Homo sapiens: one gene and its partners. Each later gene encodes a partner of the first gene's protein in a complex. Each region holds a gene or a part of one and is shown in the gene's direction. Other genes may lie near its edges.

Region 1 (7,038 bases):
CCTAGAATGGATGCATCCTGATTTATTTGCGCTACTTTCTGTCTTTCACTATTACAAGCAGTGCTGCAGTGAACATTATTATCCCTACCACCCTGTAAACATTTGTTTACAGTTCCAAAGATTTATGTAGGTATAAATGAACATGATATTTTTTATTAGATATTTCCAAATTACCTTCCAAAAAACATTGTAACAGTTTATACTTATAACACCAAGTATTCTATCGTTGCTGCAAGGTCTTCATCATTGTTTAGTCTTTGCCAATCTAATAAGCAAAAAAATGTTTCACTTTTCAGTTTGTATTTATTTAACCATGAGGGAAGTTGAGCATTTCTTTATACTGATTACTGTCTTTCCTGTGAATTTGCGGGCATCTCATGCTTGTTTGTGGTGATGTCCCTTTTAGCCCAGAGCTGTAGTCTGGATGCTTCCCTTTCTGCCAATTTTCTGGGAGCTCTTCAGTGCCCTTCTGTGGGAGCCCATTGAGGTTTTTGTGGAAGCAGAGCTCTAAGCCTGTGTGTTCCGGTCTCCACCAGGTGGCCCCAATGTCAGTGTATGCTTGTCTGGGCAATGATGCGGCTGCCATTCGTGATGCCTTCCTGACCCGATTGCAGAGCAAAATTGAGGACATGCGCATCAAAGTCATGATTCTAGAGTTCCTCACTGTTGCAGTAGAGACCCAGCCAGGCCTCATCGAACTGTTTCTGAACCTGGAAGTTAAGGATGGCAGTGATGGCTCAAAGGTAAGCCTGTAACCTGGGATGACACTGGGAGTTGGCTCACTGGGAGGCAGATGCTGGGCTCTGCAAGTACAGCTGCTGGCAGTGGCTGTGGAACTGAACTCTTACCTGTCCCTTCTTGCAGGAATTCAGCCTTGGGATGTGGAGCTGTCTCCATGCAGTGCTGGAGCTGATTGATTCCCAACAGCAAGATCGATACTGGTGCCCACCCCTGCTGCATCGTGCCGCCATTGCCTTTTTGCATGCTCTGTGGCAGGATCGGAGGGACAGTGCCATGCTGGTCCTCCGAACCAAGTAAGTCTGCCTCTGGGAGTAGTTTCATTGTTCTGGTCTATAAAATGGGAGTAATAATAGCTCTTATCCCAGAGGTTTGTTGTGACAGTTCACTGGGAATAAGAGTGCTTAGTCCTGGTTCAATACCTGGGAGTTTTACACTAATTCTCTTTCTAATGCTGCTGCAAGTATTAAGGATCTTTAAATATTAAGCACCTGGAAGGTTCAGTTGCTTTTGTGTTCCTGCCTTTTGCTAACTAGCTGCATCAAAACTCATTATTCTTGAGAAACAGTAGATTCAGGAGAGAGGCGCTTGCTCAAGTCACTGGATTGAATGAAACATTCCGTTCTATTGGACCTGCTGGCACAAAGGGAAGGAGTGTTAAAAGGCTAAATTTGGGAGTCTGCTGTCTTATTTCCCTCCCTCCTCTTCTGTGGGGCTTTTGGGAATCTACAGTGGAAGGAATCTTGAAGAGTTTTTATTGATCAACTCTATAATGCATAAGTGTGATTCATGAGAGGAAAATGTAATTTTATCTATGGAAACCTTTCATTTATACGGGAACAACTGACTTATCAGACACATATTAGGATTGAGACTGGTAAAATATGAAGTGACCACCAAAGGGAGCTTGAGAGAGGAGAAAATGACTGTGAGAGGGAAAAAGTTATGATTTCAAACATTTATTTCCTTTTTAGACCCAAGTTTTGGGAAAATTTAACCAGTCCGCTGTTTGGAACCCTTTCTCCTCCCTCTGAAACATCAGAGGTAAGCTGTGGCAGAGGGCAGGATGGTGGCTACAAGTCCCTTGGAGGAAAGGCTGTGGGCTGTGAGATGGGGCCGTAGACAATGATACCTCCCCTAATTAAACAACAGAATGTTCCCTTCACTAGAAACGTCTTTCTCAGGGAAGTGCCAGCTTTCTGTCCCTTTGATGTCTTGCTTTGGGAAGGAAAGTGGTTTGCGCTACTGTGTGTTGGTGGCTCTGTGGTCTTCTCCATTCAGTTGGAGACGTTGTGGACCTGACGCCTCTGCTCTTGCAAGTCAGGACATTCACATTCAACAGGGGTTGTGCTAACTTGTTCTGCAAGTGTTGGGCCCCTGCTCTGTTCCCTGTTTGATATACTGGGGGAGATCAGTGATCAGAGATGTGATAATTGCCTGTTCTGCTATCTCCACAGCCCAGCATCCTGGAAACCTGTGCCCTAATCATGAAGATAATTTGCTTGGAGATATACTATGTAGTAAAGTGAGTACTTTCCCCTCTTGAGATTTTAACTGAAGGTTGGGGGAGTGGGAGTTGGTGGCCTACCACTGGGTGCATGGCTGGAAGAGCCAAGGCAGAGGAGAGAACTGGTTTGGAACCATTCATGGAAGGCCAGTGAGCTGTGTTCCTGGCCAATCCACCGATGGCATTTATGATTGTCAGAAAGAGTTATTGTGAAGCAAACTCCATGCAACTGGGATTTTATGGAGGAGGAATCCTGGAAAGGCCTCAGCCTAACCCACACGTTGGAGGTGTCCTGGAGCCGTCTGCCTTTAAGCCCATGCAAGGTCGTTTTCTCTGCCTCAACAAGGGTCTGTACCCATTATATTCCCATCTGCTTTCAAAATCTAACTGGAGGTTTTTTCTTGACACTGTAGGGGTTCATTAGACCAGTCATTAAAGGATACACTGAAGAAATTTTCCATCGAGAAACGCTTTGCCTACTGGTCAGGGTATGTCAAGTCATTGGCAGTTCACGTGGCCGAAACAGAAGGCAGCAGCTGCACCTCCTTGTTAGAGTACCAGATGCTGGTGTCCGCCTGGAGGATGCTTCTCATCATTGCCACCACTCATGTAAGACCCTTTTGGGGAGAGTTTTCACTTTGGTACCTTAGCAATGATGTGTTGACATGAGCCTAGCAGATACAGCTCCTTGTGCGGAAGAATTAATCAGGGTTTATCCCTGAGAGCTAAACTGTAATAGGTTCTATGCTGAGAGATTGGGACTGTGGGGTATTTGAGGGTGTTGGGTCCAGGAGACCATTAAGAGGAATGCAGAGAAGTGATTTGAAATCCTTTCAGAGTTCCTAAAGCCTCCTGTACCTCCCTTAGGCCTTGGCTGGGTCTTAGCTGCTCCCTGGCTGCATCTGCCTCTTGTGCAAAGGCATAACTGTCTTCTCGTGCTGTGTACCTTGTAGATGCTAGGTCAATAAATACTTGTTGACTAGTCAGCAGGGAGCTGTGACAGCTGCAGCAGCACCCTCTCTAAAAAGCAGTTTGTCATTGGTTCTAGAAACTGCATTTCCTGGTCTTAGAAAAAGAACAGAGGCCATTGTCTCTGTACTCTGTCTACTGGGAGTTGGTTTTGAGAGAGAGAGATAACATCTGGAAGAAATGCATTGTTCTTGGCTTTTTTGTGGTTTGACTCCGTCACGCTGTATCATAAGGACTTGGTATTGAAGTGTTCTTTCTTGGGGTATCCAGATTAATTTTTTTTTTTTTTTCTTGAGACGGAGTCTTGCTCCGTCACCCAGGCTGGAATGCAGTGGTGCGATCTTGGCTTACTGCAACCTCCGCCTTCCGGGTTCAAGGAATTCTCCTGTCTCAGCCTCCCAGGTAGCTGGGATTATAGGTGCCTGCCACCACGCCCAGCTAATTTTTGTATTTTTCGTAGAGATGGGGTTTCACCTTGTTGGTCAGGCTGGTCTCGAACTCCTGACCTCAGGTGATCCACCCACCTCGGCCTCCCAAAGTGCTGGGATTACAGGTGTGAGCCACCACGCTTGGCCCAGATTAATCTTTTGACTTCATGAACAACTTCAGCTTGATAGATGCCTCCTTTTTCCAAGCACCTCCTACATCTGTGAAATTTGTTGCCTAGTGCCAGACTGCCCACATGCTTGGAGCTTTGAGCCTAGGAGGGGCAGGTTTGTGGCTACTCTTGCTGTGGCATGGTGGTTTTGGACCCCTAAGGCTCCAAACACACTTAAAGGCTCACCTGTCTTTGAGAATGGTTGATTCCCCAGGGTATAACCTTTATGTCACCTGCCTTTTAGGCCCTAGTTAGGCAGCAGTTCTTGAATTGTAGCTCTGAAAATCCCACCATCCTCTTTCCCCAAAGGAAACCTATCTGGCTCTCTGTCTCACCTGTCTACCTATACAAAAGAAAAGAAAAAAAAAGAGAAAGAAACCTAAGTCCAGGATGTTGGTCACCCATTCATTCTCTTAATGGCATTAGTGGAACGCTTCCAGGCATTGAGATGCAGCAGTGAATAAGGCAGATAAGATCTTTGATCGCATAGAGAGTGCCCTATGATGGAGGAGGTAAATTATAAACAAATTTAGCAATAAAAAATATGGTTTCAGATAGTGATAATTTGCTGTGAAGGAAATAATTAAAGTGCTGTGGTAATGAACACATGAGATAGAAGTAGTCAGGGTGGCCTTCTCTGAGTGGTGATGTCCCAGCTGAGAGCTGAATGTGTGAAGAAGCCTTCCAGGTGGAGCCCGTGGAGGAGAGAAGTCTAGGCAGATGGACTTGCAAGTGCAAAGTTCCAGCAGTGGAAAAGAGCTTGATATGTTCATGAAAGAGGCAAGCAGGGTTGGACTAGAGTGAGCACAGATGGGACTGATACTACATCAGTTGGACCAGATCCTGTGGGGTCTTTGGACCATGTTGAAGAGCTTGGTTTGCGTTTCCCGGGCACTGGGAAGCCTTTCAAGGATTCTAAGCAGAGGGAGGACAGAGTCTCAAAGAGGAGGTGAACCTGGGCTTGATTCTGACCATATCTAAGGGTTGACAGAAGAACAGCAGGGCCTTCAAGCCCTATTTTACTTTATTTTTTAGGGAACAGGATCTCACTATGTTGATCAGGTTGGAGTGCAGTGGTGCAATCATGGCTCACTGCAGCCTCAACCTCCAGGGCTCACGTGATCTTCCCACCTCAGCCTCCCAAGTAACTAGGACTACAGGCATGCACCACCATACCCAGCTAATTAAACATTTTTTGTTGTTGTTGAGATAGGGTCTCATCATGTTGCCCAGACTATAAGCCCTATTTTATTTTATTTATTTATTTAAGACGGAGTCTCTCTCTGTCGCCAGGCTGGAGTGCAGTGGTGCGATCTCGGCTCACTGCAGCCTCCGCTTCCTGGGTTCAAGCAATTCTCCTGCCTCAGCCTCCCGAGTAGCTGGGACTACAGGTGCGCGCCACCATGCCTGGCTAATTTTTGTATTTTTAGTAGAGACAGGGTTCCACCGTGTTGGCCAGGATGGTCTTGATCTCCTGACCTCGTGATCCGCCCACCTCAGCCTCCCAAAGTGTTAGGATTACAGGCATGAGCCACCACGCCCGGCCTATATAAGCCCTATTTTAAATCAGGGAGACTGTTTTACCAATGACTAATTGCCTAGCAGAGGACCCCATGTTTCTTGGCCTCTAAAATCTGGAAAATTTTCCCAGCTGAAACCTTTTTCTGTTCCTTTGCAGGCAGATATAATGCACCTGACTGACTCTGTGGTGCGTCGCCAGCTCTTTCTTGACGTGCTTGATGGAACCAAAGCATTAGTAAGTGTGTCTGGGAGATTTTACATTTCTCCCAGGGAGGTTGTCTTTGAAGTCAAATAGCAGAGGTCATGAGTCTGCCAGCCAGCCGCACAAATAGTCAGGTCACAGGGCTCACGTTGGCCTGGGAGGCCTGAGACTGTAGTGGGTCAGCAGAGCTCTGCTGCTGCCATGCCAACCCTGGCTTCTCCCCCTCCACTCCACTCCTGTGAGCTCACTGCTGGGGAAGAAAGGCAATGAGGCCGGAGGTGCCCTGTGGATGGCATGCGAATCTTTCCACTGACTTCTGACTGGTGTGCTGTCTCCTTTCAGCTCCTAGTTCCAGCCTCAGTGAACTGCCTTCGCCTTGGCTCCATGAAGTGCACTCTGCTGCTTATCCTCCTCCGGCAGTGGAAGAGGTGAGGCTGTGCCAGGAGAGGCAAGCCCGAGGCCAGAGCCTTCTTGTCAGTGCCTGCTTGCCTTCCTGAAAGGGAGAAATAGTGGGTGGAAGCTGGGCTGGTTTTCCATCTTGAGGAATGGGAGTGACATAGCAGATAGGAGGGTGAGGCAGACTGGTGGATATCCTGAGATGGAGCAGGGGCAGTGTGTGGCCTTTTATGAGGTATTTTGTCTCACTCCCCACCCCGTATTCTTTTTTTTTTTTTTTTTTGAGACGGAGTCTCACTCTGTCGCCCAGGCTGGAGTGCAGTGGCGCGATCTCGGCTCACTGCAACCTCCACCTCCCAGGTTCAAGTGATTCTCGTGCCTCAACCTCCCTAGTAGCTGGGATTACGGGTGCGCGCTACCATGCCTAATTTTTGTATTTTTAGTAGAGACAGGGTTTCACCATGTTGGCCAGGCTGGTCTCGAACTCCTGACCTCAGGTGATCCACCCGCCTTGGCCTCCCAAAGTGCTAGGATTACAGGCATGAGCCACCACGCCTGGCCCACCCAGTATTCTTTCTAGAGAGTTAGGTTCTGTGGATGAAATCCTTGGACCCTTGACGGAGATCCTGGAGGGAGTGCTGCAGGCCGACCAGCAACTCATGGAGAAGACCAAGGCCAAGGTGTTCTCAGCATTCATCACAGTGTTGCAAATGAAGGAGATGAAAGGTGAGGGGCAGAGGCAGGGGGAGCAGCAGCTGCAGTCTGCCCACTCCTGCTGACAGCCAGGCAGGGCTTCCTTCAGCTTAGGGCCACACATTTCTTCTGGGACTTTTGAGTTTCCAGTCATGGAATTCTTACCCCAAGAAAGCTATTTTTTTCCCTCATGTGTCTCTCCCTCCTCTCCCACTGGACAGATGCTGTCCCTCCTAGCGCCCTAGTACATCTCCAGCCCCTTCCTAGGAAGGAAACCTTGGTGTACAGTGAGAGTTGGCCTGGTGAGCATGACAGTGTCCCTCCCTGTCTATTCTACAGTAAGTGACATCCCCCAGTACTCCCAGCTGGTGCTGAATGTCTGTGAGACCCTCCAAGAGGAAGTGATTGCACTCT
Region 2 (7,038 bases), on another chromosome or scaffold:
GTGTAGATTAGGAAACTGTTTTTTGGGGATTTAAAAACCACTGGAGTAAATGAGAGTTTGTGAGGACAGTGGGCCAAGATGGAACCCCAGGGAGCAATTTGGTTGGCAAGATGGAAGAGAACATACCTATAAAATGTAGAGATCAGTTAGGTAACTATGGAAGAGGTGGCGACAGTTGTAGGCCATCTAGAGAAGTAGGAATACCAGAATGAATGGCTTCACTGTCAGCACTATATTTTGGGCCTTACCAAGCCGTTCTTCCTGTGCCACCTCTCCCACAAACATGCTAGTTTTGCTTAAGATTTGTCACCTCTGTGTATCCTTTTCCTGCCTCTTAGTCATTTCTTCCTTCTTTGCACACTTGTTTTAGGTTGTCACTTGGTGATGGTGCCACTGTGCTTTTATTTTCCCCCTTTAAGACCATGAGCATCTTACAAGTTAAGCAACATTTTATTCATCTTTAATGTCCCCAGAACCCAAGTATATTATGATGCTTAATAAATGTCTGTTAAATGGCTAGCATGTAACAAATGTCAGGAATGTAGTAGGTGTCAAGTTAGATTGTGAAGTGGATGTGAAGTAGATGCACTTCTGTGCAAAAGCTATCATTCAGAGGCAGAGATCTATGCTTTCAAATCTTGAAATTCATATGGTCTGTGGCTGTGTATTTTATATGTTAGGATATTGCCTACAATTTACATCTTATGTCTTAGAATGCTTGCTGCTTTGAAGAAATTTGAAAAAGATTCTTAAGAAAAATTTAGTCTTTGAGCCCCTAATTTGCGAGCATGATTTTTTTTCTTAAACCACAGCAGTTCAAACATGTGGTTAAGGGGGAGCTCACCAGTGAGCAAGGTGATTATGAGCTGCTCATTTATAAGGTTAAAAGAAATCATTTATAAGGTTAAAAGAGAGGTCTATTCTTTTTTTTAAACAATGTAAATATGAACAGTTGTCTATTTCTGGCACATTCTGTGTTTTAATAGGAAATATTATTAGAAACTGAACACTTAAACTTAGCAGTGCCATTAAGATACTGACATACTGTAAATTAAAATTTTCATGAAATCTCCCCCCACTCCCCGTTTTTTTTTTTTTTTTTAGGAAGTTCAGTACCTGCTTCAAGTAGCAGCACTGTACCTGTCTCTCTGCCTTCTGGAGGCTCTCTAGGATTGGAAAAGTTCAAGAAACCCGAGGGAAGCTGGGACTGTGAATTGTGCCTAGTGCAGAATAAGGCAGACTCTACCAAATGTTTGGCATGTGAAAGTGCAAAGCCAGGCACAAAATCTGGGTTTAAAGGTAAGGCCAAAAAAATAAAAATAAAGGTGATGGTAAAGCGCCTTTTTGTAAGGCCATTTAAAAATGAAGTATTTGAGAACAGCTTCAGTGTTCACTCATTCTCTCTTGAAAATTAATATAAAATGAGATTATCCTGAGATGTTTTAGTTATATCTGTTTCTGAATATTGTAAGGTCATATTAGTTGCTTGTCAACAGTGAGGTATCTTTTCTCCAGGTGGGAAAAAAAATTTCTTGTGTCATTGAGCCTCAGAGAGTTTTTGTTTTTTGTTTTTAACTGCTAGCCCCCTAGGTGAACTGTTCTTTGTTTTTTTGTTTGTTTGTTTTTTTGTTTGTTTGTTTGTTTGTTTTTGAGACAGTTTTGTTCTTTTGCCCAGGCTGGAGTACGGGGGCGCGATCTCTGCTCACTGCAATCTCCGCCTCCCAGGTTCAAGCAATTCCCTGCCTCAGCCTCCCAAGTAGCTGGGATTACAGGTGTGAGCCACCGCGCCCAGATGAACTTACTGACTTTTATTTGACTGGGAATACACCTCTAAATTAAAAGCGATACAGGCTGTGGCTTTGGTTTCCCAAAGTAGGTCCCAGGAAAAGAACTCTTAATATTTTACTATATAAGTACAAAGGAAGACTCCCTCAAAGTAATTAATCCTAAACTAACTGGAGGCCAGATTTTTGTGTTTTTTTTGAGATGGTGTCTTGCTCTGTCGCCCAGGCCGGAGTGCAGTGGCCGATCTCTGCTCACTGCAAGCTCCGCCTCCTGGGTTCATGCCATTCTCCTGCTTCAGCCTCCCGAGTAGCTGGGACTACAGGAACCTGCCACCACGCCTAGCTAATTTTTTGTGTTTTTAGTAGAGACGGGGGTTTCACCATGTTAGCCAGGATGGTCTCAATCTCCTGACTTCGTGATCCACCCGCCTCGGCCTCCCAAAGTGCTGGGATTACAGGCGTGAGCCAACACGCCTGGTCTGGAGGCCAGATTTTTCAAGTCTTCTGTAAAAGAGTAAGCCCGCAAGGAGAAAATGTGTGAGGATTAATGTCTTGAAACAACTCAGACAGATATTTCATCTTCTTACTTATAAGTTGTAGCTAAATAAAGTGTACTCAGTGGACAGAGTGTAGACCCCTAGAACGGTGAGAGGATGGGATGGGGGGTAGATGATGAGAAATTAATTAATGGGCACAATGTACATTATTTGGGTGATGAATATACTAAAAGCCCAAACTTCACTGCCAGGCAACATATCCATGTAACAAAATTGCACTGGTAATCCTTAAATTTATACAAATTAAACAAAAATAATAGCAAGCTTTATCTACTTTGTAATTAGCTTTCAAACTCTTGATTGCAAACCAAAAGTCAGGAATAAACCTTTTATATTGTGAGCCATCACCTGCACAGCGTATATGTCTATATGATTGAAATCTGTTTTGCAAAATAATACTTGCCTCTGGTAGGTGTAAGGTTCCCTGGTATTTTCTGTTTTATTTTATTTTAAAAGAGAAGTGCTGGTTGCAGCCTGCTAAATTAATTGATGATTAATGGTATACAACTAGCAGTTTGAAAAACACTGCATTTAAGTGTTTTAGAAGTTTGTGCTTTCTGGTTCATTTTATCTCTTTCTGTAGCTGTTAATTCATGCTCCCCTTTTTATACTGTTCTCTACCTGTAGTGTGGTAATCACCATACTTTTAAGTATCTTAGTACTTCTTAATGATCCTTGTTTTGAGCCAGTAGGTCAAGTACTTCATTTCTGATTTCCTTAGCTGCAGAAAAGCATTATGAAACCAAGACTTTGATCTTGTCAGTATAATGCTTGCTCTCTTCTCTTTTCTCTTCTCTCCTCTCTCTTCTCTCCTGTCTTCTCTCTTCTCTCCTCTCCCCTCTCCCCTCTCCCCTCCCTTCTCCCCTCCCCTCTCCCCTCTTGTCTCCCCTCCCCTCTCGTCTCCCGTCTCCTCTGCTCTCCTCTGTTTTCTTTTCTTTATTTATTTTGAAGTGGAGTCTCACTGTTGACCGGGCTGGAGTGCTGTGGCGCAATCTTGGCTCACTGCAACTTCTACCTCCCGGGCTCAAGCAATTCTCCTGCCTCAGCCTCTCAAGCAGCTGAGACTACAGGCACAGACCACCATGCCTGGCTGATTTTTTTTGTATTTTTAGTAGAGATGGGGTTTCGCCATGTTGGCCAGGCTGGTCTTGAACTCCTGACCTCGGGTGATCTGCCCGCCTTGGCCTCCCAAAGTGCTGGGATTCCAAGCGTGAGCTACCACGCCCAGTCTGATGTTTAACTTTATAAACATTGCTTCAACTCTGTAATTCTTCTGTTTTTCTGTTGCCTTCCTTTTTTAAATGCTTGAGTGAATAACACATTTATTCACAAGATTTAAAAATCAAGAAATTGTGACAAGGTTCAATCTCTTCTCTCCATTGTCTCTTTTTCCACCTTCCCTCCCACTTCCAAATGTAACTGTGGTTAGTTTCTTGTAAATCTTTCAAAGTTTCTTTATGCCCATCCAAGGCAAACATACATACCCCTATATATTCTTACTTCCTTTTACCTTGTTAGAAAAGTCTGTATACCGCACTCCCTTTCTGCCCCTTTGATTTTATCAGGGATTATCTTGGACACATCTTTGTTCTTCCTTCTTCGTTTATAGCTGCCTGGATTGCATATGGCATTTTGCATGTCTATGAGTTTATCTTTAAAACAAACTCCAGCTATAGAATTGCAAGGTCAAAGGGTATATGCATTTGTAATTTTCGGTAACTATTGACAGATTGCTCTCTATGAGTTTTGTGTTCATTTATACACCCACCTGCAATGTGTAGCCTGTTACTTCCAGTCTCATCACTAGTACAAACTTTATCAAACTTTATCGCAGCCAGTCTGATAAATGAAAAGTGGCTTGTCAGGATAGTTGTGAGGATTGAGATATCATTCTCATACCGACTAAATATAGGTCACCTTGGATTATGTTTACAGCTGCTGGTAATACTCTTCAAAGTAGGCCCTTTCAAAGTTACTCCTATGTTTCTTTGGCTTTCACAGTGTTTACATTTTGTTTGAGAGGATCAGTACATTGAGTGTCTATGTGGTGTCTTTTATATTTTTGTAGGCTTTGACACATCTTCCTCATCTTCGAACTCAGCAGCCTCCTCATCCTTCAAATTTGGTGTCTCATCATCCTCTTCTGGGCCTTCTCAGACTTTAACAAGCACTGGAAATTTTAAATTTGGAGATCAGGGAGGATTCAAAATAGGTGTGTCATCCGATTCTGGGTCTATAAACCCCATGAGTGAAGGCTTTAAATTTTCTAAACCAATAGGAGATTTTAAATTTGGAGTTTCATCTGAATCTAAGCCCGAAGAAGTTAAAAAAGATAGTAAGAATGATAATTTTAAGTTTGGACTTTCTTCTGGTTTAAGCAACCCAGTTTCTTTAACTCCATTTCAATTTGGGGTATCTAATCTTGGACAGGAAGAAAAGAAAGAGGAACTGCCCAAATCTTCCTCTGCAGGTTTTAGCTTTGGTACAGGTGTTATTAACTCCACCCCTGCTCCTGCTAACACCATAGTGACCTCTGAGAACAAGAGCAGCTTCAACCTTGGAACCATAGAAACCAAGAGTGCTTCAGTGGCTCCTTTCACATGTAAGACATCAGAAGCTAAAAAAGAAGAAATGCCTGCCACCAAAGGAGGATTCTCTTTTGGCAACGTGGAGCCTGCCTCTCTGCCATCTGCCTCAGTGTTTGTTTTGGGAAGGACAGAAGAGAAACAGCAAGAGCCTGTCACTTCTACTTCCCTAGTTTTTGGGAAGAAAGCTGACAATGAAGAGCCAAAGTGTCAACCAGTGTTTTCCTTTGGGAATTCAGAGCAAACCAAAGATGAGAATTCTTCAAAGTCCACATTTAGTTTTAGTATGACAAAACCATCTGAGAAGGAATCTGAACAGCCAGCAAAAGCCACTTTTGCCTTTGGAGCTCAAACTAGTACTACAGCTGGTAAGTATTAACTTTTTATTATTATTATTATTATTTTTTTTTTTACAAGTTGTCGTTTTACAAGTTGCCTTGACAGATGCAGCAAGTCAATTAATGGTTTACACTGAACATAGTTGAGAAATACAGAACTCTTTGGGAAGGAACCTAGGATTTTCAGTTTGAACTGCTCTTTAAAACCCTCATGATTCTGGTGAAGTCATCTGTGGATCTAATTTTGAGAAATACAGCAGTAATGCAAAGCTCAATATAGTGCATATTTATGTGTGTCTTTCTCTTCTGTTTGGGCTTTTATAATCAGAATTGGTATCTACTACCTGGAAAATAAGGATTCTTAGCTTATGAAGTATTTTCTACCATAATCTATGGGAAGGCCTTTATTTACAAATAGTTACAGATAACCAGTCCTCATCAAACATTAAGAAACATAGACAACAAATATAATTAATCCTGAGAAAACAAGAGATTTTGAAAGCTGAAGTCCTGGGGAAAAAAATGACATAGCACCTTAAAGGTTAAAAGCATGATTGTTGGTGGATCCTATTAAAGTCATTCTGTGAGCTGAATAGCAGGAAGAACTTCATAGCTGATAATCAGATTAGTGAACTAGAATTTCCCCAAACTTAGTGCACCAGTACAAAGAGTGATCCAAGTTAGATCCACAAGTTCCTTTGGGATAGGAGTGGCCTAGAAGATAAGAAGTTTTGGGGAAATATCAAAGAAGTGACAGAAGAAAATTTTCTAGATCTAAAGAAAGACATTGGTCTTAAAAATGGAAATTACCTATTGGCAAAGATCACTGAAATTTAGGACACCAAAGCTAAAACCCCAAATGCTTTCAGAGAGAAAAGCTATTTGCCACAAATAGGCAGGTATCAGATTAGCATCATCTTCTAATTTGTAACATCACATGCTAAAAACAACAGTGCCCTTAAAGTGAAAATGTTCTTGAACCTAGAATTCTGTTACTAGCCAAATGTGTTTAAATATAAAGACAATCCGGGTGCCGTAGCTCACACCTATAATCCCAACTAGTCGGGAGGCTGAAGCACAAGAATCTCTTGAACCTGGGAGGCGGAGGTGGCAGTGAGCAGAGATTGGCCCAGTGCACTCCAGCTTGGGCAACAGAACAAGGCTCTGTCTCAAGAAAACCCAACAACAACAAAAAAACACCAACACAAAGGCAAAATACAGATGTTTTTAGATGTGCAAAAAATGCAAAAGTTGAATATCCATGAATACTTTTGAATAATAAATTGGAAACACTCAAAATTAACCTTTAAAAAGTATGGAATTCAACAAATAGCTATGAGCAGTTTTTTGTCTGTTATATATTTACTTAGAAATATAAAGACAAAATCAAAACTAAAATTACATATTATTTGGAAAGCAACAAAAACATGATAGGGTCTAATCAGATTTGATGATGAAAACACCAGGCTATGGTAGACACTCTTAACCATTCTTCCATTAGCCAGGTTGAAAGTAAGCCAACATGTTCCATTTTCTGTAAGTCATACTAATGCCCATAGTGTACTGTGACCAGCCCTGGATAGTGTGCGGTATTGGAACTGAGAGATTATTGGAATAGTTTAGAAAAAAATCTTCAATAAGGTGGCTGGATTCAGAATCACCATATAAAAATCAAAAGTTTTTCTTCAAATCAGCATGTCTCATTTGTTTTTCCTAACATTTCTAACTTGTATTTTATAAAAGCAGCAGAACTTGTAACATGCCAAATAACTAA
Region 3 (7,038 bases), on another chromosome or scaffold:
ACTGTCATATGAGTCAAAGTCTGCTTTATCCCTTGGCTCTGAGAGCAAAGCTCAGGAATCATTTCAGGTGAAACCTGTCCCCATTTCTTCCTTAGGTCTCCATTTTGTCAGCAATGGAGCTCATCTGGAACCTGTGTGAGATTCTTTTTATTGAAGTGGCCCCAGGTAGGCATGGAATATCTCACCATAATCTCATAGGTGTCCCCTTCCATCTTCTGCTCTTTCCTCATCTTTCCTGTGCATGGTGATGAGTGTTTTATTCCTGAGAATGTTCTTTCCATCATTATAACCACGGGAAGTCGTTAGAAAACACCCAAAGAAACCTGACCGTTTTGTCAGGTGCTGCAAAAAGAATCATGCAGAGTGCCTCCAAGAAACCTAAACCCTGACAAGTACTGAGAAATATTAAACTAGTGTGTGAAAGGGGGTGTCAGTGTTAACATCATGGACTGGCCAAGCTTAAGAAAGTTTTATGAATGTGGGGTAGGATTAGGTGGTGAGAGGCAAAGTCACATTGGGAATTCTGTCATGAATCATTGGGACAGGGCAACTCTGTGTGTTAACTCTGCCAATGGGTATGAACTCTGCCAATGGGAATTTTTCTGTTGATCTTTTTTTTTTTTTGAGACAGAGTTTCACTCTTGTTGCCCAGGCTGGAGTGCAATGGCGTGATCTCAGCTCACCGCAACCTCCACCTCCTGGGTTCAAGCGATTCTCCTGCCTCAACCTCCTGAGTAGCTGGGATTACAGACATGCGCTGCCACGCCTGGCTAATTTTGTATTTTTAGTGGAGATGAGGTTTCTCCATGTTGGTCAGGCTGGTCTCGAACTCCCAACCTCAGGTAATCTGCCTGCCTCGGTCTCCCAAAGTGCAGGGATTCCAGGTGTGAGCCACCGTGCCCAGCCTTCTGTTGATCTTGAATTAAACTGTGGTCAGTATAGTGTCATGGCCTGTATGAGCTCTCTGTGGATCTGCTGCAGCTTTTTTGCATTTCTTTTAAGGATTTATGTTTGCTATTTTCCATAAATGAGTAGTAACCTCTGTGTAGCCCTAGCATTTTATTCATACTCTCACTAAAGAAGTGAGGAACTTGAAATTAGAGTTGGTTGTTCAGAGGCCTCCCTTCTCCAGTGGATTTTTGAGGAGGTTACAGTTGGCTCTTTGTATCTGCAGGTTCTACATCATGGATACGGAGTGCTGGCTGTACTCTGCCATTTTATTTCATTTTATTTTTATTGATTGATTGAGACAAGTTCTCACTCTGTCACTTAGGCTGGAGTGTGGTGGTACAATCACAGCTATTGCAGTCTGGACCTCCCAGGCTCAAGCGATCCTCCTGTCTCAGCCTCCTGAGTAGCTGGGACTACAGGCACGTGCCACCATGCTAGGCTAATTTTTTGTGTGTATATGCTGGGGGAGGGGAGACAGGGTCTTGCTCTGTCACCCATGCTGGAGTACAGTGGCGTGATCACAGCTCAGAAGCCTCGACTTCCTGGGCTCAAGCAATCCTCCTGCCCAGCCTCCCAAGTAGCTGGGACCACAGGCCTGCACCACCACGCCCGGCTAATTTTTGTATTTTTTGTGGAGAGGAAATTTCGCTATGTTGCCCGGGCTGTTCTTGAACTCTTGGGCTCAAGCAGTCTGCCCATCTTGGCCTCGCAAAATGCTGGGATTATAGGCGTGAGCCACCATTCCTGGCTCGGCTAATTTTTTATTTTTTTTTGTAGAGATGGGGTCTCCCTATGTTGCCCAGCCTAGTGTCAAACTCCTGGGCTCAAGCGATCTGCCTGCCTCAGCCTCCCAAAGTGCTGGGATTACAGACATGAACTACCATGCCCGGCCATATGTTTTGTTTTGTTTTGTTTTTTGAGACAGAGTCTCACTCCGTCACCCAGGCTGGAGTGCAGTTGTGCGATCTTGGCTCACTGCAACCTCTGCCTCCTGGGTTCAAGCAATTCTGCCTTAGCCACCTGAGTAGCTGGAATTACAGGCATGCGCCACCACGCCCGGCTAATTTTTGTATTTTTAGTAGAGACAGGGTTTCACCATGTTGTCCAGGCTGGTCTTGAACTCCTGAGCTTAGATGATCCACCTGCCTTAGCCTCCGAAAGTGCTGGGATTCCAGGTGTGCACCACCAGCCCCCTGGCCCTATGTTTTTATCATCATTGCATACCTGGCTGCTTGCTATCTAGTCATTGTTGGTTCCTAAACGGCCATTACTTATGTAGCTATTAAGTATTTGTGAAGAATCTGGAGTGTGGGGTAGTGAGGTCTGCATTCCATGTTCACCCCTTTCTGGGGTCAGTTAAAGATGGAGCTGCCTGGCACAGAAGTAATATTTGGTGAAAGTGCATTTGCTTTTTCCTAGCACAGTCTGTCATTCAGGACCATGTGTGTGACTGCTTAAAAGGGATAAACCTATGTAGTCAGCTTGTCTGCCTTAAAGTTCTCTGTTCCTTGGATAAAGGAACTTGCTGCAGATGAAGCTGAGGCTTTTGTGTGTGATGAGAGTCTCTCCTCCCAGCTGGCCCTCTCCTCCTCCATCTCCTTGACTGGGTCCGGCTCCATGTGTGCGAGGTGGACAGTTTGTCGGCAGATGTTCTGGGCAGTGAGAATCCAAGCAAACATGACAGCTTCTGGAACTTGGTAAGACAGGCCGGGCCCCCACCTCCCACCATGTGTCCTACTGTCCCTGGTGCTGCCGGGTGGGTCTGAGGACACCCACTGAGCCTCCAGCAGTAGGCTGGCTTTTGGAGTCTGTTACTATGGAGACTCTTTTGGATCTTTTCTTCCCTGCTCTATGGGAGAGTCTAAAACCGAGGTACCATGTAAGAAAAATAATGCTTTGAAGACTTTTCCAGGGTAAAAGGAAATTTGATTTCTTTGTGGATCTAAGGAAGAGAAGACACAAAAAGGAATACAAAACCGTTTTTTTTTTTTTTTTTTTGAGACAGGGTCTCGGCTGGGTGCGGTGGCTCATGCCTGTAATTCCAGCCAGCACTTTGGGAGGCCAAGTCAGGAATCTCTTGAGCCCAGGAGTTTGAGATTAGCCTGGGCAACAAAGTGAGACCCTCCATCTCAAAACAAATTAATAAATAAAAATATAAAAGAGAAAAGATAGTCCGACTCTGTTCCCCAGGCTGTTGTGCAGTGGCCTGATCTTGCTCACTGCAACCTCCGCCTCCTGTGCGGTCCTACCACCTCAGCCTCTCAAGTAGCTGGGACCACAAGTGCCAACCACCATGCCTGGGTAATGATATAAAACCAATTGACAGGGGCTGGGGTGCATACAGGGTTGGATGTAAATGAGCTTGCACATTACTTTGGATCATCAGTTTCGAAGTCAGCATGTCGTATATGTGTATATGGATGTATTTTCTATGTGTTAGGTATTTCCATTCACCTCTGCTGACTGACCCAATTGGGAGGTGGCAGGGAGGAGATCGCTAGTTGACTGGGCTAATGGAAAGTCAACTAAACTTATAAAGCCTGAAATTGGGAACAGATTGTGAGGACAAAAAAAAAGAAAAGAAAAGAAAACCTGGAATTCGGCCCGGCACGGTGGCTCACAGGAAGTAGTGGGCCAAATGTTTGAGTCTCTGATTGATTCGCTAAGGTTTGTTGTTGTCGTTTAGAGACAGGGTTTCGCTTTGCGGCCTGGGCGGGAGTGCAGTGATGCGATCATGGCACAATGCACCTTTGATTTCCTGGGCTCAAGCAATCCTCCCACCTCAGCCTCCTGAGTGGCTGGGACTACAGGCGCACACCACTACGCCTGGCTAGTTTTATTTTTTGTAGAGGTGAGGTTTCACTGTATTACCCAGGCTGGTCTTGAACTCCTGGGCTCAAGCAATCCTTCCACCTTGGCCTCCCAAAGTGTTGGAACTGCAAGTGTGAGCCACCATTCCTGGTCATTCACTGAGTATTTATTGAGTCCCTACTATTTGCAAGGCACCAAGGAGACACCATGACTAAAACAGGCAAAGATTCCTGCCTTTATGGAGTTTATATCCTGTGTGTGGAGAAAGAACAGCAACACATAGGCTAGTACCATGTATCCTGGCACATAGTGAAATGCTCTGCCAAGGTGCCAAGAAGGGAGGGAGGCTGCAAGTGCTGGAGGGGCATCGAAGAAGGCCTCCCTCATGAGAGATTGGAGGTGAGACCTGAAGGAGGTGAGGAGAGCTAGGCTGAAGAAAGCATTCCAGATAGCAGGGCCTGTAGATGCTGTGTTCTAGAGCCAGGGTGGGGCAGGAGGGGCTGTGCTATGTAGGGGTAGGTGGGAGGGATGAGCTGGGGAGATAAAGACAGAGCGATACCAGGCCAGGTCTGAGACAGCCCCCTGGGCTGTCACTGAGACTTTAGCTTTTTGCAGCCTACATAGCAGGGTGACTAACAACATGGTCTGTGGTGCCACACTGCCTGGGTTAGCATTCCAGCTCTGCCTTTTACTAGCTGTGAGGTGGGTTTTTTTCCTTTTTTGAGACAGAGTCTCTCTCTGTCACCTAGGCTGGAGTGCAGTGGCGCCATCTCAGCTCACTGCGACCTCTGCCTCCGGGGTTCAAGTGATTCTTCTGCCTCAGCCTCCTGAGTAGCTGGGACTACAGGCGCGCGTCACCATGCCCAGCTAATTTTTGTATTTTTAGTAGGGATGGGGTTTTACCATATTGGCCAGGCTGGTCTCAAACTCCTGACCTTGTGATTCACCCACCTTGGCCTCCCAAAGTGCTGGGATTACCAGCATGAGCCACCATGCCTGGCCTTTTTTTTTTTTTTTAAATACAGTTTCACTGTGTTCCCCAGGCTGCAGTGCACAATCACCAGTCACTGTAGCCTTGGCCTCCAGGTCTCCAGTGGTCCTCCTACTTTAGCCTCCCAAGTAGCTGGGACCACAGACATGTGTTACCACCACCAGCTAAAGTTTTTATTTATTTATTTATTTTTTGAGATGGCGTCTTTCTCTGTTGCCCAGGCTGGAGTGCAGTGGCGCTATCTCAGTTCACTGCAACCTCTGCCTCCCTGGTTCAAGCAGTTCTGTCTCAGTCTACCAAGTAGCTGGGATTATAGGTATACGCCATGATGCCCAGCTGGTTTTTGTTTTGTTTTGTTTTGTTTTTTGTATTTTTAGTAGAGATGGGGTTTCATCATGTTGGTCAGGCTGGTCTTGAACTCCTGACCTCAAGTGATTTGCCTGCCTCCCTCCATCCCACCATCCCAATTTTTTTTTTTTTTTTTTTTTTAGCTGGAGTCTCGCTCTATTGCCCAGGCTGGAGTGCAGTGGCACGATCTCGGCTCGCTGCAAGCTCCGCCTCCCGGGTTCATGCCATTCTCCTGCCTCAGCCTCCCGAGTAGCTGGGACCACGGGCGCCTGCCACCACGCCTGGCTAATTTTTTAATTTTGTTTAGTAGAGACGGGATTTCACCATGTTAGCCAGGATGGTCTCGATCTGACCTTGTGATCTGCCTGCCTTGGCCTCCCAAAGTGGTGGGTTTACAGGCGTGAGCCGCCACGCCCGGCTAACCCAATTATTTTTTATTTTTATTTATTTATTTTTTGAGGCAGAGTCTCACTCTGTTGCCCAGGCCAGAGTGCAGTGGGGCGATCTCAGCTGGGATTATAGGCTCTCGCCATCCTGCCTGGCTCATTTTTTTATTTTTAGTAGAGATGGGGTTTTGCTGTTTTGGCCAGGCTGGTCTCGAACTCCTGACCTCAAGTGATCCGCCTGCCTCAGCCTCCCAAAGTGCTGGGATTACAGGCTTGAGCCACCATGCCCAGCCAAATTTTTTTATTTTTTGAACTCCTGGCCTCAAGCAGTCCTGTTGCCTTGGCCTCCCAAAGTATTGGGATTACAGGTGTGAGCCACTGTGCCCGGTCACTAGGTGTGAGATCTTGAGTGAGCTACTTAACGGCCTTAAGGGTCCTCATCTGTCCAGTGGAGATAATAATACCTGTCCCATGGGGCTGTTGTGATCATTAAATTAGTTAAAGGACATAAATGTGGGTGAAGTAGTTGACACGGTTGATGCACAGTAAAAGCTAGTCTTTTACTTCTAAGCCATATGGGGTGAGGGGGCATTGGAGAGCTGAGCAGAGGAAGCCTGAGATCTTACTTAGGTTCCCAAAGGCTGTCCTGGCTGCCATGTTGAGACTACAGCAAGGATGGAAACAGGCCAGTCTGGATTCTGCTGTACTAAGCCAGGTAAAAGATGGTGGTGGTGTAGGCTAGATATGTTTGAAGAGAGTTGATGGGGTTTGCTGATGGATTGATTTGATGTGGGCATGCAAGAAATAGAAGAATGTGGGAGGATAAGGTTGGTGAATTGGAGGCAAACTGGTATTTAATTTTAGACATGTTTCTCTCGTGTGTGTGTGTGTTTTGTTTTGTTTGTTTGTTTGTTTGTTTTGAGACAAAGTCTCTGTTGCCCATGTTGGAGTGCAGTGGTCAGATTACAGCTCACTGCAGCCTTGACCGCCTAAGCTCAGGTGATCCTCCCCTCCTAAGCCTCCCAAGTAGCCAGGACTACAAAGGCGTGCCACCATGTCCAACTAATTTTTGTATTTGTAGTGGAGACGGGGTTTTGCCATGTTGTCCAGGCTGGTCTCAAACTCCTGGGCCCAAGCAATCCACCCTCCTTGGCTTCCCAAAGTGTTGGGATTACAGGCGTGAGGCACCATGCCTGTCCGACATGTTACGTTTTAAGATGCCTATTCAAGATCTAAGTGGAGATGTTGACTAGGCACTTGGATATACAAAGCTGGAATTCAGACAAGGAAGTTTGGGCTAGAGAGGAAAAGTTGGGAGTTATCAGTATGTATATGTTTATATATTTGTGATTTTTTTTTTTTTTTTTTTTTTTTTTTTTGAGATAGAGTTTTGCTCTTGTTGCCCAGGCTGGAGTGCAGTGCCTTGAATACTGAATTAGTGAATATTGAACCATTGCTCCTAGGGGAAATACAGGGTTAGGTTCCTGCAAGCCTCTGGTCATATTTTGTTCAACCAATCAATATATAACCGATCACTTGTTTTATGTGTGT
Region 4 (5,658 bases), on another chromosome or scaffold:
TGGTCCAAGACCATCCCCCAAATCATCAGCTCTGATTGCAGGATTCATCAGTTTGCCGTTCTGTTGCAATCCCAGTGGAGATAAAAGCATAGACCTAGAAAAAGCCTTAAGAAGGAAGGTTGCAAGTGCCCCCAGCTTGCACTTGAGGAAGGGGTAAACCTTGCCACTGCACTCCTCTGTAGCTGCTCCACTGTGAGTTGACTGCTCGGCCTTGTACACACCCCTCCTAGAAAGACGTTTAAGCCCCTATTTCCCTTCTCTGGTGGTCAGTTCCTCTGCTCAGACGACCCCCTTCCCCACTCATTAAGGTAATTGGCCAGGCAGGCTCATGGGTCACGTGCTGAGTCTGCAATGTACAGAATCCAGACCACCACATGGCATCAGCACCATGGGTGTTTGCTCCCTGAGCAGTAGTTGTCACCCATCATTTGCTCTGTTTCCCCCACCATCAGTCCCAAAGCCCTAGACTAAACCAGAGAGCAAATTAGGTCGTGTTTGTTCCTGAATGGGCCAACTGGAGCCTTGAGACAGTGGGCAGTGGTCTGCTCTGCTGGTTTGATGGACGGCTCCCTGAGGTAGACTCTTTCCCAGCAGAATGTTAAGATCCCCAAAGGGTCCCCAAAGGTGCCTTTGCTTGTAGGGAGAAGTTTCTGTCTTGTCACAGGGTGTGGTCATCCCCACTGTCTCCCAGTTGTTAAAATAATTGTTACCTTTTCTTTTGGGAAGAAATAATCTGTAGATAATGGAACCAACTGCTGCTTATCGGTAGGATTCCATGTTCCAGGAAGGATGCGGCCTGAGGGTCAGTGGAGCTGTGTTCTGCCTTCCTCCTCTAGTCCCATCTTGTCACCCTGGAGGACTGTCTTCAATTGAGCTTTACTAGAAAGTCTTGAAACATGAGCCCTGCAGAGGCCTTGATTTAGCAAGTTGTGCCCTGCTTATATGTGCTGATTTAAGCTAATCAAATGATTTAATAGTGCTTTTTAAAAAAGAGTACTCCTGGCCGGGTGGGGTGGCTCACACCTGTAATCCTAGCACTTTGGGAGGCCAAGGCAGGTGATCACCTGAGATCAGGAGTTCAAGACCAGCCTGGCCAACATTGTGACACCCCGTCTATACTAAAAATACAAAAATTAGCCGGGCATGGTGGCAGGCACCTGTAATCCCAGCTACACAGGAAGCTGAGACAGAATTGCTTGAACCCGGGAGGCGAAGGTTGCAGTGATCTGAGATCATGCCACTGCACTCCAGCCTGGGTGAAAGAGCGATACTCCGTCTCAAAAAAATAAAGAGTACTCTGGCCGAGTGCAGTGGCTCACGCCTGTAACCCCAGCACTTTGGGAGGCCAAGGCAGGCAGTTCGCTTGAGGTAAGGGGTTTGAGACCAGTCTGGCCAACATGGGGAAACCCCGTTTCTACTAAAAATACAAAAATCAGCTGGGCATGGTGGCAGGCGCCTGTAATCCCAGCTACTCGGGAGGCTGAGGCAGGAGAATCACTTGAACCCAAGAGGCGGAGGTTGCAGTGAGCCGAGCTTATGCCACTGCACTCCAGCCTAGGCGATGGAGTGAGGCTCTGATTCAAAAATAAAAATAAGAGTACTCTGTGGACTTTTCATAAAGTGCAACTTAGTGCTTTGTTTTTCTAATACTAGATTTTACTTGCAGATAGAAATATAACAATGCCACAAATGAGAAGGCTCAAGTTGTTTAAATACATGTTTGCTCCTGGCTTACCTCTTCTTCACTATCCCATGAGAATCGTGGATTTGCCTTTCCTTGCATCCTGCAGTTCTACTTGTCTCAGAGAGAACTGCACACCAGCCCTGCATCCAGGGGATGAGGTTCTTTGACCTGTAGATGGGTCCTAAAATGAGAAGGGAGAGAAGCAGCCAGACCTTGAGCTGCTCTGCTAGGGGAGCTGTGAGTTGGGAGAAAAGTGGTCACTGGTTGGCAGTTAAGGACTTGCTGAGAGAGACATTTGTAGGAGAAAGAAGATAAGTAGGTTCATACCAGAAGGGCCAGGACTCGGATGGAGCAAATCCCAGTTCTTGTCCTACAAGCTGATTGTGCGATTGAGCACAGGCCTCTGGAATTGTGCAGAGATGAGAAACAGGCTGAATTTGCAAGGCCACAACATCAGGTTGTCATGTACCCATCATTACAGCTTATGCCCAGAAGTCCTGACCCTGTGACAGGTTATTATCTTAAAAACTCATCTTCAGCCCACTTTTTCAGAGAACTAACTCTTTCCTTAGATGTTGGGCCAGGATTTCACTATTTACCCAGAGAAACTAAGAGAAAGTGGCACTAGGCGTCTTGTCTTCCAGATGTGAGATTTCGATCTTTCTAATGAAATTGGGGGCACTTTGAGACTGTCAGGGTTTGTTCCTGTCTCAGAATGGCTCATAATAAACTCACTGAAACACTCAAAGGAAAGTACTGACTTGATCTGGATCCTTTTCAGAGGCCTGGAGATTTAATTTCACAGATTCTCTTCTTTTGGCTCAACAACAACAGCAACAAAAAACTCTTTGACTCCCCAACTTCAGAGGGAAAACTGAAGCGAAACTGGTGAGCTCTGCCACGGCAGATGCCTTCCTTTTTCACTCACGAGCTGGGCGGGCTCATCAAAGAGCAGGAAGTGCCCATTTTACACTGGGGCCAGGATGCAGACCCAGCTCCTGTCCTCCGCGAACTTACAGTCTAATTAGAGCCTCTTAAGGACAATTTGGCAGCCACTGTTAACTCTTGATGCATCATTTAAATCCTAGAACAGGCAGCTTTAAAGCAAAGAACTACAGACTTTTCCGCAGTGTCCAGCATTTGCTGACCAAAAAAAACCTGAGGGTGATTTTTCTCTCTTTGAATTTTTACCCTTGCCTGCACCTAGCCAGAACCCTTAATACTAAATTTGCAGTTATATGCAGCTCTGCCAACGCCTTCCTGCTTTAGACTGGATCTCTACTATCCTTTTTCTCTACTAGGCACCAGAACCTTTGTCTAGTTCATTAGGTGGTTCACATCACTTGCCAAATTTCCAGCATGCCACTCAGGAAGTGACTTGAGCATGCTGAATGCTGAGTCAGAAAATGAACCCCTGGGCTGGCGGGTTGACCCAGGCCTGACAAAGTCTTGGCAGTCCCCACACTGACTGCGAACTCTCCCTTAGCCTCAGTCAGCTGGGAAAGGAATTGAGCCCTGTGTCAGCAAATTGGGAGAAAGTGTTACATATAAAATTCTTGATGGAAATGTGTGTTTTATATCAGAATTGAGCTTTTGTTCCTGCATCTCAGAAATACCAGGAAGAAGTCAGCATCTCATTAAACAGGAGTTGTCTAAACTGTGGAAGAAAATATCCCCCATTCTTTATCCTACGCTGAATCCACAAGTCTTCCCATCTTCCACCATCTTCTGACAGTTCCATAATATATTGGTATCCCTCACAGGGCAGGGACAGGAAGGAAATAAATCTTTCTGCCACTTGTTTCCAACCGAAAAGGAAAAAAGTTAAAAATTACTAAAGTGTTCTGAAAAGAGATTTCAAGTGGTCTGTGCTGCTTTTTTGCCTTGTTACGCACATAACTTGTGACTGGCTAGATAGGCCACGTGTATTTATCAGCCAAGATTCCATTGCAGCAGATGATTTCAAAACCTCTTTGTGTGCTGGGCCGTGCTAGGTAGCTGGAATATCTGAGGTAAATTAAGCACTGATTTGTTCCCAGAGTTGTGCATAATTCTTTAAAAGTAGGCTCGTTTTTTTCGTTTTTTTGTCCAGGATCACCTAAGTGAAGTACTCGTGGTTCTAAGTTGCTAACCCAGGGAAAGAGGATATTTTCCTGTCCTAACCTTGGTTTTTGAAATATGCTTCTCCTGTGTGCCCTCTCTGGGGTATCTGGCCCACAGTAGATTGCTCAGCAGATATTTGAATGAGCAGATGCTTTGCTTTGTCCTCCTGTGCCAGGCTCCTCCCCACATCCTCTGGATCAGCTCCACGTGCCTAGATTCAGACTCCGTGATTCACCGTGGGGGCCCTTAATAGGCATTCAGTCTGAAAGAAGGTGGAGGAGAATAATGTCTCCCAGGATCAAATGAGACTCAGGGCTGTTCCTTCAAAGACAGAAACTTGCAGAGCTGCACAGCAGCAGGGAAACATTGAGAAGGGGGTGGAAATTTGATGTACTGTGAATAATGAAGGCCGGATCTTTAAAAAGAAAAAGGGACGGGGTGCTGGCAGAAACCCAGCTCTGCGCTAGCACAATCTGTACACCTGGCTGCCTTTGCCCTTGAGCTTCTATTTCTTGGGGATGGGGAGGGCAAAAAAGTTTGCCCCAGACACTGGCTTCTGTTTGAACAGGAAGTGGGGAGTCAGTGATCCCAGAGGGGACTTCAGCATCAGGACATATGCTTTGGTGGCCTCAGCAGACCTGGCCTAGGCAGGCTTTCAGGTGGCACCCAGGGGCTTTATGGCCTGCAGGTAAGGCCCCTTCATCCGGGTCAGACTTAGCAAATAAAAATATAGGACACTCAATTAAGTTTGCATTTTGGATAAACAGTGAAGAAGTTCCTAGTGTAAGTATGTCCCAGTTCTATGTGGCTGCCCTACCTGGGCTTGCCTCTGCTGGTACTAGCTGCCCAGAGACCTTCAGGCCTGCCACGGGCTGCCGGGAGCTCTCTAGTGGAATTGGATTACCCTGATTTTGTGCATTGTTTGTGCTTTTGTGGGCATCGGAAATGACTGAGATACGCAGTTTTGAAGAGCTAGGCAGGCAGCTGAGCGGGATAATGTGGGCCCCAGTTGACCTCAGTGGCTGTCATCTACTGTGTTTTTCAACCAGGAATTTCAAATACTGTGTATTTTAGAAAGAAAGGAAAGAGCCAAAGTACAGCCTTTTCTCACTTGATCAGTAACTTGTGTTAGAAACTCAGTGGGGGAGAATTCTTTGCGTTTTTCAGTTGACTGATTATTTTCCTTTTTTTCTTTTTTGCTTTTCTCGAGTCACTCTGTGTGGTGCTTGTGGGAGAAGGGAGAGGGTGGGAGAGCGTTGGTGGATGTGTTCTGCATGTTCCTTTCTGTACAGTAACTTCTGCATTTACTCTGTTTAGGATGGTTCCTTCACCACTATCCCTGTCTGTAGCCAGTAAATTTCTGGAATATTCTCCCAGAGTGCCATGTGCCCCCTTTGTTCAGTCCTTCAGTGGAGCAGAAGCCTCTCTCAGGCCTTTCCTGGGAATATCTTTAGCTGAGGCACAGCCTGGGGGCTCCTCAGAAGGTGACAGAAGTGCCTCTACCTGGCCTCGGGGCTTAATGAGCCAGGCCCCTTCTCCACTCCCTGCAAAGAAGGCTCCTAAGGCCTATCCAGTCCCTGGGTCTGCGAAGTCCCCAGAGGTCTCTGTAAGTACAGGACTCCCATCCCAGCTCTGAATTTGTGCTTTCTCCCCCTGAACTTCAGAATTCTTGGCCGGAAAGGTCAGATTCTGACTGTGGTGGGACAGTAAGTCAGAAGCATTCTGGTGATAAACCCAGCATGTGGCATGCATTCTGGGGGCTAGGAACAGCTAAGATCTGTAACCCTTTATTTTAGACCTTCAGTGGAAAGCATTTTAAATGGGGGTTGAGAGCCACGTATTGGCCTTGGGGAAGGGGAGCCGGAATTTGG

What was found.
Region 2: NUP188 (region 1) and NUP153 share a complex: the UniProt entries of both Homo sapiens proteins name them as parts of the nuclear pore complex.
Region 3: NUP188 (region 1) and NUP85 share a complex: the UniProt entries of both Homo sapiens proteins name them as parts of the nuclear pore complex.
Region 4: NUP188 (region 1) and NUP93 share a complex: the UniProt entries of both Homo sapiens proteins name them as parts of the nuclear pore complex.

What each region holds. Positions count from the first base shown.
Region 1 is NC_000009.12:128,992,661-128,999,698, forward strand, and holds part of NUP188 (nucleoporin NUP188), read left to right. Parts: intron 1-536; coding exon 537-743; intron 744-864; coding exon 865-1,034; exon of another isoform or gene 1,035-1,374; intron 1,375-1,712; coding exon 1,713-1,782; intron 1,783-2,195; coding exon 2,196-2,263; intron 2,264-2,658; coding exon 2,659-2,854; intron 2,855-4,203; exon of another isoform or gene 4,204-5,490; coding exon 5,491-5,568; exon of another isoform or gene 5,569-5,877; coding exon 5,878-5,963; exon of another isoform or gene 5,964-6,028; intron 6,029-6,511; coding exon 6,512-6,657; intron 6,658-6,963; coding exon 6,964-7,038. UniProt on the Homo sapiens protein: Component of the nuclear pore complex (NPC), a complex required for the trafficking across the nuclear envelope. Required for proper protein transport into the nucleus.
Region 2 is NC_000006.12:17,626,911-17,633,948, reverse strand, and holds part of NUP153 (nuclear pore complex protein Nup153), read left to right. Parts: intron 1-1,104; coding exon 1,105-1,299; intron 1,300-4,409; coding exon 4,410-5,294; intron 5,295-7,038. UniProt on the Homo sapiens protein: Component of the nuclear pore complex (NPC), a complex required for the trafficking across the nuclear envelope. Functions as a scaffolding element in the nuclear phase of the NPC essential for normal nucleocytoplasmic transport of proteins and mRNAs.
Region 3 is NC_000017.11:75,215,659-75,222,696, forward strand, and holds part of NUP85 (nuclear pore complex protein Nup85), read left to right. Parts: intron 1-95; coding exon 96-165; intron 166-2,526; coding exon 2,527-2,648; intron 2,649-7,038. UniProt on the Homo sapiens protein: Essential component of the nuclear pore complex (NPC) that seems to be required for NPC assembly and maintenance. As part of the NPC Nup107-160 subcomplex plays a role in RNA export and in tethering NUP96/Nup98 and NUP153 to the nucleus.
Region 4 is NC_000016.10:56,845,129-56,850,786, forward strand, and holds the end of NUP93 (nuclear pore complex protein Nup93), read left to right. Parts: 3' UTR 1-5,158; downstream 5,159-5,658. UniProt on the Homo sapiens protein: Plays a role in the nuclear pore complex (NPC) assembly and/or maintenance. May anchor nucleoporins, but not NUP153 and TPR, to the NPC. During renal development, regulates podocyte migration and proliferation through SMAD4 signaling.